Linked DNA regions of Homo sapiens: region 2 is linked to region 1. The links come from fine-mapping of genetic effects on plasma protein levels. Region 1 holds a variant in brackets. A gene starts in the other region. All regions are shown on one strand. Distances are from middle to middle. Region 1 has its middle 49 kb from the start of PROM1. Region 2 holds the start of ENPP6 (ectonucleotide pyrophosphatase/phosphodiesterase 6).

The links. PIP is the posterior inclusion probability: the model's chance that the variant is causal. The UK Biobank Pharma Proteomics Project read protein levels with antibody pairs (Olink). The fine-mapping took linkage between variants from a reference panel, not from the people measured, so its PIPs are less certain.
Region 2: ENPP6 starts here. The variant in region 1 is fine-mapped to the plasma level of the ENPP6 protein (UK Biobank, PIP 0.91).

The regions. Positions count from the first base shown.
Region 1 is chr4:16,130,637-16,136,010 of GRCh38, forward strand. No RefSeq gene overlaps it. Among named protein-coding and RNA genes, the nearest start is that of PROM1, 49 kb to the left of the region's middle. The variant C/T (reference allele first, on the strand shown) is at 3,216.
Region 2 is chr4:184,215,895-184,221,268 of GRCh38, forward strand. ENPP6 (ectonucleotide pyrophosphatase/phosphodiesterase 6) reads right to left here and starts at 1,979. Exons shown (of 8, transcript NM_153343.4): 1 at 1,685-1,979. The coding sequence starts at 1,925.

The sequences.
Region 1 (5,374 bases):
GTGTCCTGTTTAAGTGGTTTGTTTTCTTTTTCTATTTTTAATTACCTTCTGAGGATATTGCCTACAGGGATATTTTATTAACTCTTCCAGTCTTGAGTCCACTGAGGTCTGGGGATTAGGGAGGCAGGATCCAGGCATGGGAAAGCTTCTGCTGTGAAGTAGTGAGAGAACATCTGCAGAGAGTGAGCAAGGCCTGAAGGGAGGTTGTTATTGAGGTGACAATACACATGAAAGACATATTTTGGAACATGTTGGTGTCCCTCTGGGACCCCTCGGAGAGACTCTGTTAAAACTCTGTATTTTCTGCTAATCAAATAAATGATCTGGGGCTTGGGCCTACACTAGTTGTTTTTTTGTTTTGTTTTGTTCCGTTTTGTTTTGTTTTGTTTTGTTTTGTTTTGTTTTGTTTTTGAGACAGAGTCTTGCTCTGTCGCCCAGGCTGGAGTACAGTGGCTTACTGCAACCTCTGCTGAGTGGAGTACTCAGCTTGAACCGCCTCCCAGGTTCAAGCAATTCTCCTGCCTCAGCTTCTCAAGTAGCTAGGACTACAGGCATGCGCTACCATGCCCAGCTAAATTTTTTTGTATTTTTAGTAGCGATGGGGTTTCACCATATTGGTCAGGCTGGTCTCGAACTCCTGACCTCAAATGATCCGTCCACCTTGGCCTCCCAAAGTGCTGGGGTTATAGGCATGAACCACCATGTCTGGCCCACTGGTTGTTTAAAGGAAGGGTTTCTCATAGGTTAGAGAACTTGGGAATAGCCAGGCGTATACTAGGGGTTCATAGAAGTTTGACTTTGGTCTCAGTGTTTTTCCAGATATACAGTTCCATTTAACCTTGGCCTTTGGAAGGCTCAATAGCCAAATGCCCACCTCAATGTCATATCTGGCACCTTTGAGCTATTATAAACATTCCTCTTATACTTCTACTCCAGGGAAAGGCTGAAATCTGTGTGCATGCAATGAAAACTGAGATGCACTAGAAATTTTGGTGGGATCTTACTGTCTTGAAAACCAATTACCTAGCTTTATTACCACATTTCTAGATCCAAAATTTAAGGACACATTTGTCTCAAAGCATCGTATAAAGTGTCAAGTCCATGCAAAAGTATAGGAAATTTAAAACTGCAAGAAAGGGCAACAATCTTAAGAGCACATTTTTTTTTTTTCTTTTTCTTTTTTTTGTGACAGAGTCTCGCTTTGTCGCCCAAGGCTGGAGTGCAATAGCGCGATCTCGGCTCACTGCAACCTCTGACTCCCAGGTTCAAGGGATTCTTGTGCCTCAGCTTCCCGAGTAGCTGGGATTATAGGTGCCTGCCACTACACCTGGCTAATTTTTGTATTTTTATTAGAGATGGGGTTTCACCATGTTGGCCAGGCTGGTCTCAAACTCCTGACCTCACGTGATCTGCCCGCCTCGGCCTCCCAAAGTGTTGGGATTACAGGCATGAGCCATTGTGCCTGGCACTTTATAAAATATTCAGGAAGTATTTTCTTTCTTCCTTTCCAATCTGTATGCCTTTTCTTTCCTTTTCTTGTCCCATTGCTAGGTCTTCCAGTATGACATAGGAGTGAAGAGAAGTTGTCTTTGTCTTATTTTCCATCTTAAAGAGAAACCATTCAGTCTTTTACCATAGTATGCTGTTAGCTGTAGGATTTTTAAAGAAAATATTACCTTTACTGTGTTAAGGAAGTTCTTTTCTAATCCTAAATATTTGAGAATTTCCATCATGATGTGACTATATGGGTTTTCTTATTCCATCTGCTAAAAATTACATCCACTGATTTTTAAATGTTGAACTAGCCTTGCATTTCTGTAACCACATATATATTTATGTATATATGGTTTTGATTTTGCCAATATTTTGTTAAGGGTTTTTGCATCTATATTCATGGAGAAATATTTGGTCTGTAGTTGTTATTTCTTGTACTGTTTTTATCTGGTTTTGATAGTAGGATAATATAGCCCTCTTAAAATGAGTTAGAGAAGCATTTCCTCTGCTTCTGTTTTCTGGAAGACGTTGTGGAGAATTGGTATTTTTTTCTTCAAATGTTTTGCAGAATTCACCACTGAAATTCTAGTGCTTTACTTTTTTTAAATTTTAATTATCCATTTGATTTTTCAATAACTATAGGTCTATTGAGATTATCTATTTCTCCCATGTTAGTTCTTATAGTCTCTTTCAATGAATTAGTTTATTTTATCTAAGTTATCAAAGTTGTGTGGAAGTATCTTCTTCAAGTGCTCAAAACATTAGTTTATGAAATTGCTTCCATGAAATTGCATCAGCGTCATGAACCAAATTTTCCTGTCAAGGAGGTGAGGAGGCAGTAAGTCATGACCTTAGTTGCTTACTAAAAACGAAAGGCGTTTGAGGAAAGCCTGATAATTCATTGACAACATTACCATCAACCACACCTTACCATTCCTAGGAGAGCTGGCCAAACGGATCTTCCTCTATCAATAGCGGGAAGTGGGTATCTATTTGGTATTAACAAACATGCAAATTAGTGATTTAGGAGCCACACAGCCCCTGATGATGAAGACACATGATTCCTACACTATAATTTCAAGATGTAACATTGAATACTAAGTTGTTTTAACAATAACAAATTTTAAATTAATATATTTGGGATAAAATATCAGATTTATTTTTTCATTGCATAACATCAATCTATGATTATAATATTCACTTTTTGCCTTGGCTTTGACCAGAGACAGATTTTACCATTTGCCAATTTGGAATCTGGTCAAATGCATATTTACCGGGCACCTCTAGAATATACATGCATGGACACACACACACTCCTCATAATCTCAATGTCTCCAAGCCTCACCAGGCTGTATTTATAATCACATTGAGAATAATGCCTGTGGCTTGCAAGTAGTTCTTCTGTTTATATACTAGGCCCTTTGCATCCCAAAGTGCATGTTAGTTGGGTCACAGTGGATTTATAAACACAACCTCACAGAGCATTTGCAGATCCCCAGTGCTCCTGTGTGGTCCCCAATCTTGAATCTGACTTGTTTTGTCAAAATCCCACTTCTCTTTTGAATTCTCTTGCAGGGTGCCCACAGCACTCTTGGTAGCTGTGTAAATTCATTCATCTCTCAGTTCGTAGAAAGACAAGAGAATCACAGTTGAAGTTTGTCTGCAATGTTTGGGACTCATTTCACATCTGTATCATTCAGGGCTTATAATTAGCTTTCTTG[C/T]CTCTAAGCAAACACTAAACAGTGGCTTAAACAAAATCGATGTTTATCTTTATCTTATGTAAATGGAGTCTGGAGGCGGACTGCTCAGGGCAGAATGATGACTCCATAGCCATTGTGGATTTGGTTTCTATTTTTTTGCTTCCTCATTCTGTTGTACCCTCAAGGTCACTACCACATCCAAGAAGGCTGTTGGGGCTTCACAATATCTGCACTGGGGGTCATGCTACTGTCTGAATGTTAGTGTCCCCTCCAAACTACATGTTGAAATTCTAGCTCCAAAGGTAATGGACCTCCTAAAGGCTCCACCTCCTAATACCATTACCCTGGGGGTTAGGAGCCATCATGAATGGGATTAGTGCCCTGATTAGGTCGTGGGGGGCAGAGCTACCATAAACAGGATTAATGCCTTGATAAGAGAGACCCCAGGGAACTTGCTCACCCCTTCCACCATGTGAGACACAGCTAGAAGGCACCACATGACAGCAATATGGAGGCAGAAAAGAAGTTAAGACCAATTAAGATGGAAGACTGATGGTCACATAGGTAGAATCAGGAGGTCCATGGGGTAGATAGATGTGGCCCTGCTGATGATAGTAGGTGTGGACTTGCTGCGATATCCACGTGGTGCAGCCACAGCTGGTCAGAACAGCCACCTTAGAAGCCTCAGCTGAAAAGTACTGCTTGAAGGCACAAGAGAAATCCAGCATGTCTAGAGAGGAGAAAAGACACAGAAGAAAACTCTCCCTGGGGGTACATCCAGGTTTGAAGGGCAGAGGGGAAGTATAGCAAATGGAACCAGTGAAGAAGACAAAGAAACAGCAGCTGGAGAAATAGGGGCAAAGTAGGGCAGTGTAGAATGGCCAAGATCCAGGGAGGAGCATGGCTGGAGGGAAAGGGAGAGAGAAATGGAGCGGAAGCACCGAGAGCTCGAAGTCAAATGGAGCAGACAACGGCAGAGCAGGCCAGTGGGTCTAGTGTTTAGAAAGCCACTGGCGCCCAAAGAGGGTGTTTTTTTTTTTTGAGGTATAACCAGTGGGACAGATGGTAGTGTCTTTAAGTCTAAGTCAAAATGAGTAATTAAAAAAAAAAGAGTCAGCTGTGAAAGTAATTTTGAAGGTTATAGCCAGCCCTTGCATTTGCATGATGCTTGGTGCTTTCCCAGCAGGACAAGCTCCATAATTTGCAGGGCCCAATACAAATCAAAATGTGGGACTCTTACTGAAAAATTAAGTATTTCAAGACAGTAACAGAACATTAAAATAAGGGCAGAGTCATTCTGAGTCTGGGGCCCCATGCAACTGCATAGATTCCACACACCCATGAAACCCACTTGCTTCCAAGCAGTTTTCCTCTACTCTTTAATTTCAGAGATGAGTTCTGGAGATGGAAAAATCCATATGATTCATTTGCGATAAATATCTTTCTTGACTTCTCAGCATGGAACACCCTTCTTACTTGGGGGATAGAGGGATTTCCCATTGTGTTCATCCAGGTGAGAAGCATGATTCCCTCTACTAGGCAAATCCTCTCCCAACCCCGAGCAACCAGGTTTAGCTAATTAGGTGCTTCTTCCCAGGATTTTGAGTCTTGAGGGAGAAGTGCAAAGATGCAGGATTATTAGAGACAATTTCCTGTGGCGGTGGCAGAATGGAGAGGCCATGGCAGAGGTGAGGGTAGGGCAGGAACAGCAGTGAGTGTCCAGTGGAACCCAGGGGTAGTGTCCCATCCCATATTTCCCTGGGACCTGCTTGGGCATTCTCTGCTGCTGAGCCTTTCTTGACTGTTGCCCATTCTCCACATACAAGTTTATGTTGGGGAAAGGGTCCCTAAGACCACCCTTGAGCTTAGTAATTCACTAGAAGGATCACAGAACTCAGCAAAGCTGTCATGCTTACAGTTTTGATTATTACAGTGAAAGGACACAGACTAAAATCAGCAACAAGAAGAGGCACGCAAGGCAGGGTCCAGGGATAAGCCTCCAATTGTGCTCTCCCAGTGGCATATGTGGACAGTGATTACCTCTTTCAACAATGATGTGTGGTAACACAATGTTGGCAATGCTGATGTGTAGCAACACAAGTATTGCCAACCAGTGAAGCTCACCAGAGCCTTGGTGTCCAGAGTTTTTGCTGGAGGTCAGCCATGTAGACACAGCTGAC
Region 2 (5,374 bases), 170 Mb after region 1:
CGGAGGCTGTGTGCAAATTATTCCTTGTGCCAATATCAGGAGTGTGGATCTGACAAACAAAAGGCCATGTCATTGGCTTAGTGTCTCTGTGGAGTCTGTAATGGTCCTTTTACTTACTTGAGTCCTTTCTAAGATGGATTTTGTTCATTTTCCACTAAGATTGCAGAAGCTGCACGTGGCGTGGCAGTTTATGAATTGGGTCCCCTGGCAAGGCTCTGAAAGACAGCTGGAGTGGGGGTGGGCTGTGTGTGTGAAGCCGCTGCACAGAGCTGGAGTCGGCTGTCCACACAATCACGTCTATGTGAGAGCCGGCAGCCTGCAAACTGCTTCCCTGCAAGGGGAGACACATGCCAGGGGAGGGCCAGAGAATTTTGTTAATTCTGTTTATCTTAGAGACTGTTTTTTTGTCTGCTGGGGGAAATAAAAAACAAATACATAACTTCCTTGCTTGTGTGCAGTCTGATTTTTTTCTCTCTCTCATGCCCTCATTTTTATTTCTCCGAAGTATCTCTCCCCTTCAGTTTGGGGCATCAGTTTATGGCATTTTTCCGTACATGTGTATATAGTATCTATGCACAAAGTCAGAGATATAAATGTCTGTTTTAGACTCTTTTGGCTTTAGTGTTCTGTGGAGGTCCATGAGATATCAGAGATCTCATTTTCTTTCTGTTAACATAATTAGCAGAGCTCTCTCTGTGCTCAGAGTGCATAGCTGAGTCCCGCATAACCAGCAATAACAGTGCATTCTTAGCAGCCTCCCTGGATAGTTTGCTAAATTCTTTCTGAGAGCCTCTCGCTGCCTTTACAAAGGTTATAGCTGAAAAACAAACCAGAAACTGGGAATCCAACTCTGTGAGCAGAGAGAGGGCTGCACATTCTATTATCGCACGGATAGAGGCTCAGGTTCATGCAGTCGCGTTTGGAGTCCTGGCAATTTCAGATGAAGGCCGTCCTTAGGAAAATCAGCTATCCCAAGCCCAGGCAGTCTGGGTTAGCCGAGGTTTTTGTTTGTTTTGTGGAGTTTTTGCTGGTTGGTCTTTTGTAGATGCTGCAAATCACAAATGGGGAACCTGAACGACACAAGCTTTTTCTTCTCCGTATCATTTTACCTGGCCAAAAAGGCAAAAGAAGGGGAAGGTGGCATTGCTAAGTCACAGGGAAGGATATGACCTAAACATCCCCCCTTCCCCAAGTAATCCGGGAGCACCACTCCCCTCTGAGGACCCCACAGGTACTTTCACAGTCCAACACACTGAGAAACAAGCCCACAGGGTGCCAGGATGACATGACCACAGAGAAAAGGGACAGAAGGAGTTTGGGACACATGCACGGACACCTGTTGCTTTTGCAGACTTGAACTTAGAAAATATGAGCCTCATTAGAATTTCTCTTTCTAAAATAAACGACCACTTTTAATATCGTCAAATATCATGTACTGCTATAGTTCTCTGTCCTCCGCACTGAGAATCCAAAACAGGTCCTTGGGATAACTTTTGGGAAACAATACCGCCACGAAAACAAAAGTCTTCTCAGCCAAGAACACAGATTTTTTTTATCTACCTTTGATGTCCCAAAGGACTAGAGAATCCAGAGCATTTAAATAAGACTCCAATGCCAGGAGCTCACTGTTCCCTGCTGGATGCCAGCCCTCCCCTCCCTGCCCAGAAGAGGACATGGTACTCACCAGTCATTAGGGTATAATAATTGGGATACGAGAGACTAGGGAAGTCTGGAGTCAAGTAATCCACTTTTACTCCCCTGCTCACAATCTCTTTGAAACCAGGCAATGACTCCAGCGCCTCATCACTGATGTAGTCTGAGCGAAAACCATCCAGCAGAAACACCAGCAGCTTCCGGCGGGCAGAGGCTGGCTGGGCCAGGCCCAGGGCAAGGGCCAGCAGGAGGGTCCCAAGCTTCACTGCCATGCTGCCAGGAGCCTGCCAGAGCCCGGCTGGCACAGCTGTCGCCTTGCAAAGACTGAGGATGGAGAATCTGTAGCTATTCTCTCTTCCAGGGGCTGGACCTTGAGCCGCTGGCCTTCCTGAGTCAAGTTCACTTGCAGAATTTAAAGGAACAGCACCCCCTTTTCCACACATCTATGCTCACCCTTTACTAGAAAGTCCAGAGACCGACTCCTTCAGATAAACTGGGTTCCAAACAACCCAGAATTAACACCAGGGGAGAGAGTTCAAACTTATTATTTTTGGTGAACGTTCCAGAAATACAAGCACCCACAGAGGTGGAATTTTAGAAGATGACAAAGTCAACACTAACTTTGCAGTTGAGCTAACCAAAGGGAGGAACCAAGGAAAAGGGCAAGATTTTAATTTGCTGTTATCCCACATCATGGCCTCATTTAAACTCTTTTTCACTTAGAATTTAGTAACGCAAACCTCTGGACTCAGTGCATAAACAGGAAACAATACGTTTCGGTGGGCCCATTTGTAAACTTCCCAGCTGTGTCTCTGTAGACACAGCACTTAAAAAAGTTATTTGTCTATGTCTTGGCCACTTATGTTTTTATATGCAGTGTTATTATTTGTTATTATTTTATTTTTCAAATGTGATTTAGCTGCTGGTGCCCATAGGAGGAGGTGGTTCGTAGAAGAGCCCTAGAGCCAATGAGAAGCTTCCAGAGTTGGACAATGGGAAATCATTACTGGCAGAATGGTCTGAAGCAGCATTGCCCCAGGAGGATGGAAATGAAATAGAGAGCTGGAGATTGAGAGCTTGAGATGGAAAAGCAGAGCTAGAAATTACCATGCAGGCTTTGGGACCGAGAAGACTAGGCGGAGTGGAAAATAGGAGGAGGTTAGTGACAGGGAGGCAGATGTGAGCTGGGGAGCAGACAGAGTTAGCACAAAGTACCCAGAGTCCAGGGGTTCCCTAGAGTGGCTCCGTCATGCTACATAAAATTAAACAACACAATTCATGTGAAGGCTTATAAAACATGGCTGAGTGCAGTGGCCCACTTTGGGAGGCCAAGGTGGAAGGATTGCTTGAGGCCAGGAGCTTGAGACCAGCCTGGGCAACACAGCAAGACCCCATCTCTATAAAAAATTAAAAAATTAGCTGGGCCTGGCGGCACGTGCCTGGTCCCAGCTACACAGGAGGCTGAGGTGGGAGGATTGTGTGAGCACAGGTGGTCATATCTGCAGTAAGCTGTGATTGTATCACTGCACTCCAGGCTGGGCAACAGAGTGAGGCCCTGCCTCAAAAAAAAAAAGACATAAAACATGCATGGTCCATAGCAAGTGTTGAACAAATGTTAGATGTTATTCGCATTATAACATTGCTTGTCTCCTGAGGAAACTTGCAGGCTCTGGGCAAACTTTCCAGGGAAGGAAGATAGACACCAGCCACACCAGCCACTCTCAGTCAACCCCAAAATCCCTCTTCCACCTCTGCCCTCTGCTTGTGTCTTTTCTCCTTCTCTTTTTCTGTTGTATTTGAGTCAAGCCCAAACACAGGATCACCATGTCACTTTTTAAATTATGCTGCAAAAGAGAAACACATTGGCCAAATTACCACTCCCCTCTCAGGGGACTTGGCCAAGGATCAGAATTCTTTTTTCCAATAAGAGGTAATGCTTTTTATAATTAAATTTAAATTTTTTTCTTATTAAAAAATAAGGAAAAGGGGAGTTTATCCTAAAAGGTTGTTACTTTGAAAACAATGTTATTCTTTTTTCTTTGAGCTGTGTGGTATTGTTGCTATAAACAGAGAAAAAGAAAAGAGAGAAGAAAGAGGAAAGGAAGGAAGAAAGAAAGAAAAAGGAAAGAAAGAAAAGTAAACGAAGGAAGGGAGAAAGAGAAAGAAAGGGAAGGGAAGAAAAGGGAAGAAGGAAAGAGAACAGAAGGGAAGAGAAGAAAGGAAGAAAAGGGAGGAAGGGAAGGAAAGGGGAGGGGAAGGAAGGGGAGGAAAGGGAAGGGAGGGAAAGGAAGGGAAGGGAAAGGGAAAGGGGAAGGGAAGGAGGAAAAAAAGAATAGAAGGGAAGAAGGGAAAGGAAGAGAAAAAGGGAAGAAAAGCGAAGAAGGGAAGGGAAGGGAAGGGGAGGGGAAGGGAAGGGAGGGAAAGGAAGGGAAGGGAAAGGGTAAGGGGAAGGGGAAGGGAAGGAGGAAAAAAGAATAGAAGGGAAGAAGGGAAAGGAAGAGAAGAAGGGAAGAAAAGCGAAGAAGGGAAGGGAAGGGAAGGGAAGGGGAGGGGAAGGGAAGGGAGGGAAAGAAGGGAAAGGAAAGGGAAAGGGGAAGGGGAAGGGAAGGAAAAAAAAGAATAGAAGGGAAGAAGGGAAGGGAAGAGAAGAAGGGAAGAAAAGCGAAGAAGAGAAGGGAAGGAAAGGGGCGGGGAAGGGAGGGGAGGGGAGGGAAGGGAAGGGAAGGGAAAGGAAGGGAAGAAGGGAAGAAGAGAAGGAAAGGGAAGGTGAGGGGAATGGAAGGGAGGGGAGGGAAGGGAAGGGAAAGGAAAAAGGGAAGAAGGGAAGAAAAGGGAAGAAGGGAAGAGAAGAGATGGGAAGAAGGGAAAGGGAGGGATGGGAAGAAGGGAAAGGGAGGGATGGGAAGAAGGGAAAGGGAGGGAAGGGAAGAAGAGAAGAGAAGGGAAGGGAAAGGGAGGAGAGGGAAGGGAAGGGAAGGAGAAGGGAGGGGAGGGGAGGGGAAAAGGCAGATGCAGCCTGATGGGTTGATGGGCCTCCTAGACACTGAACATCACATGTGCTAGAAGGAGAACTTCTTCCCCTGGTGAGGGCCCATGGAGGTAGGAGGCCCAGATAGCTGTGCTCTGTGAGTTCCTGAGAGGCTCAGGGATTGTCTGGACTGCGAAGCTGGAGTCACAGTGCAAGTCCAAGTGATTTACTTTGGGATGGCCTCTGAGCTCACTTTGGGATGGCTTCTGAGCTCACTTTGGGAGAGGTTAAGCACTCCAAATGTTAAAGATGAATATAAGAGGGACTTCCACTTTTCTCCACTACTAACAAGGGTACACTCAAAATATGGCTCCCTGAGTGCCTCATTGAGCTGTTGTGGGTGTCAACTCAGAAGTAACTTGCTTCAGATTAGCGTGTTCACAGGTCCCCAGAGGCTCCCAAGGCTCCACAAAGATTGTTGTGATGTATCTGGGGTGGGGTCATCATTGTTTTATGATAATGTTTATGATCATATTGTGTTATGACCATGTTTAGACAATGTCTCTAAAGCTTTGGATCAATAAATGATTGCCAATATGAATCTCTAATATACATACCAATATATGAAGAAAGAGACGTATTGGATGGAATTCAAGCCAAGGTAATCCTAGGGTTGCTCAAAGCCAGTCTCCAGGTCTTGAACCGTCTAACCTAGAAAAGATTGGAAATGAAAGCTAAAAAGCAATAGTTAAA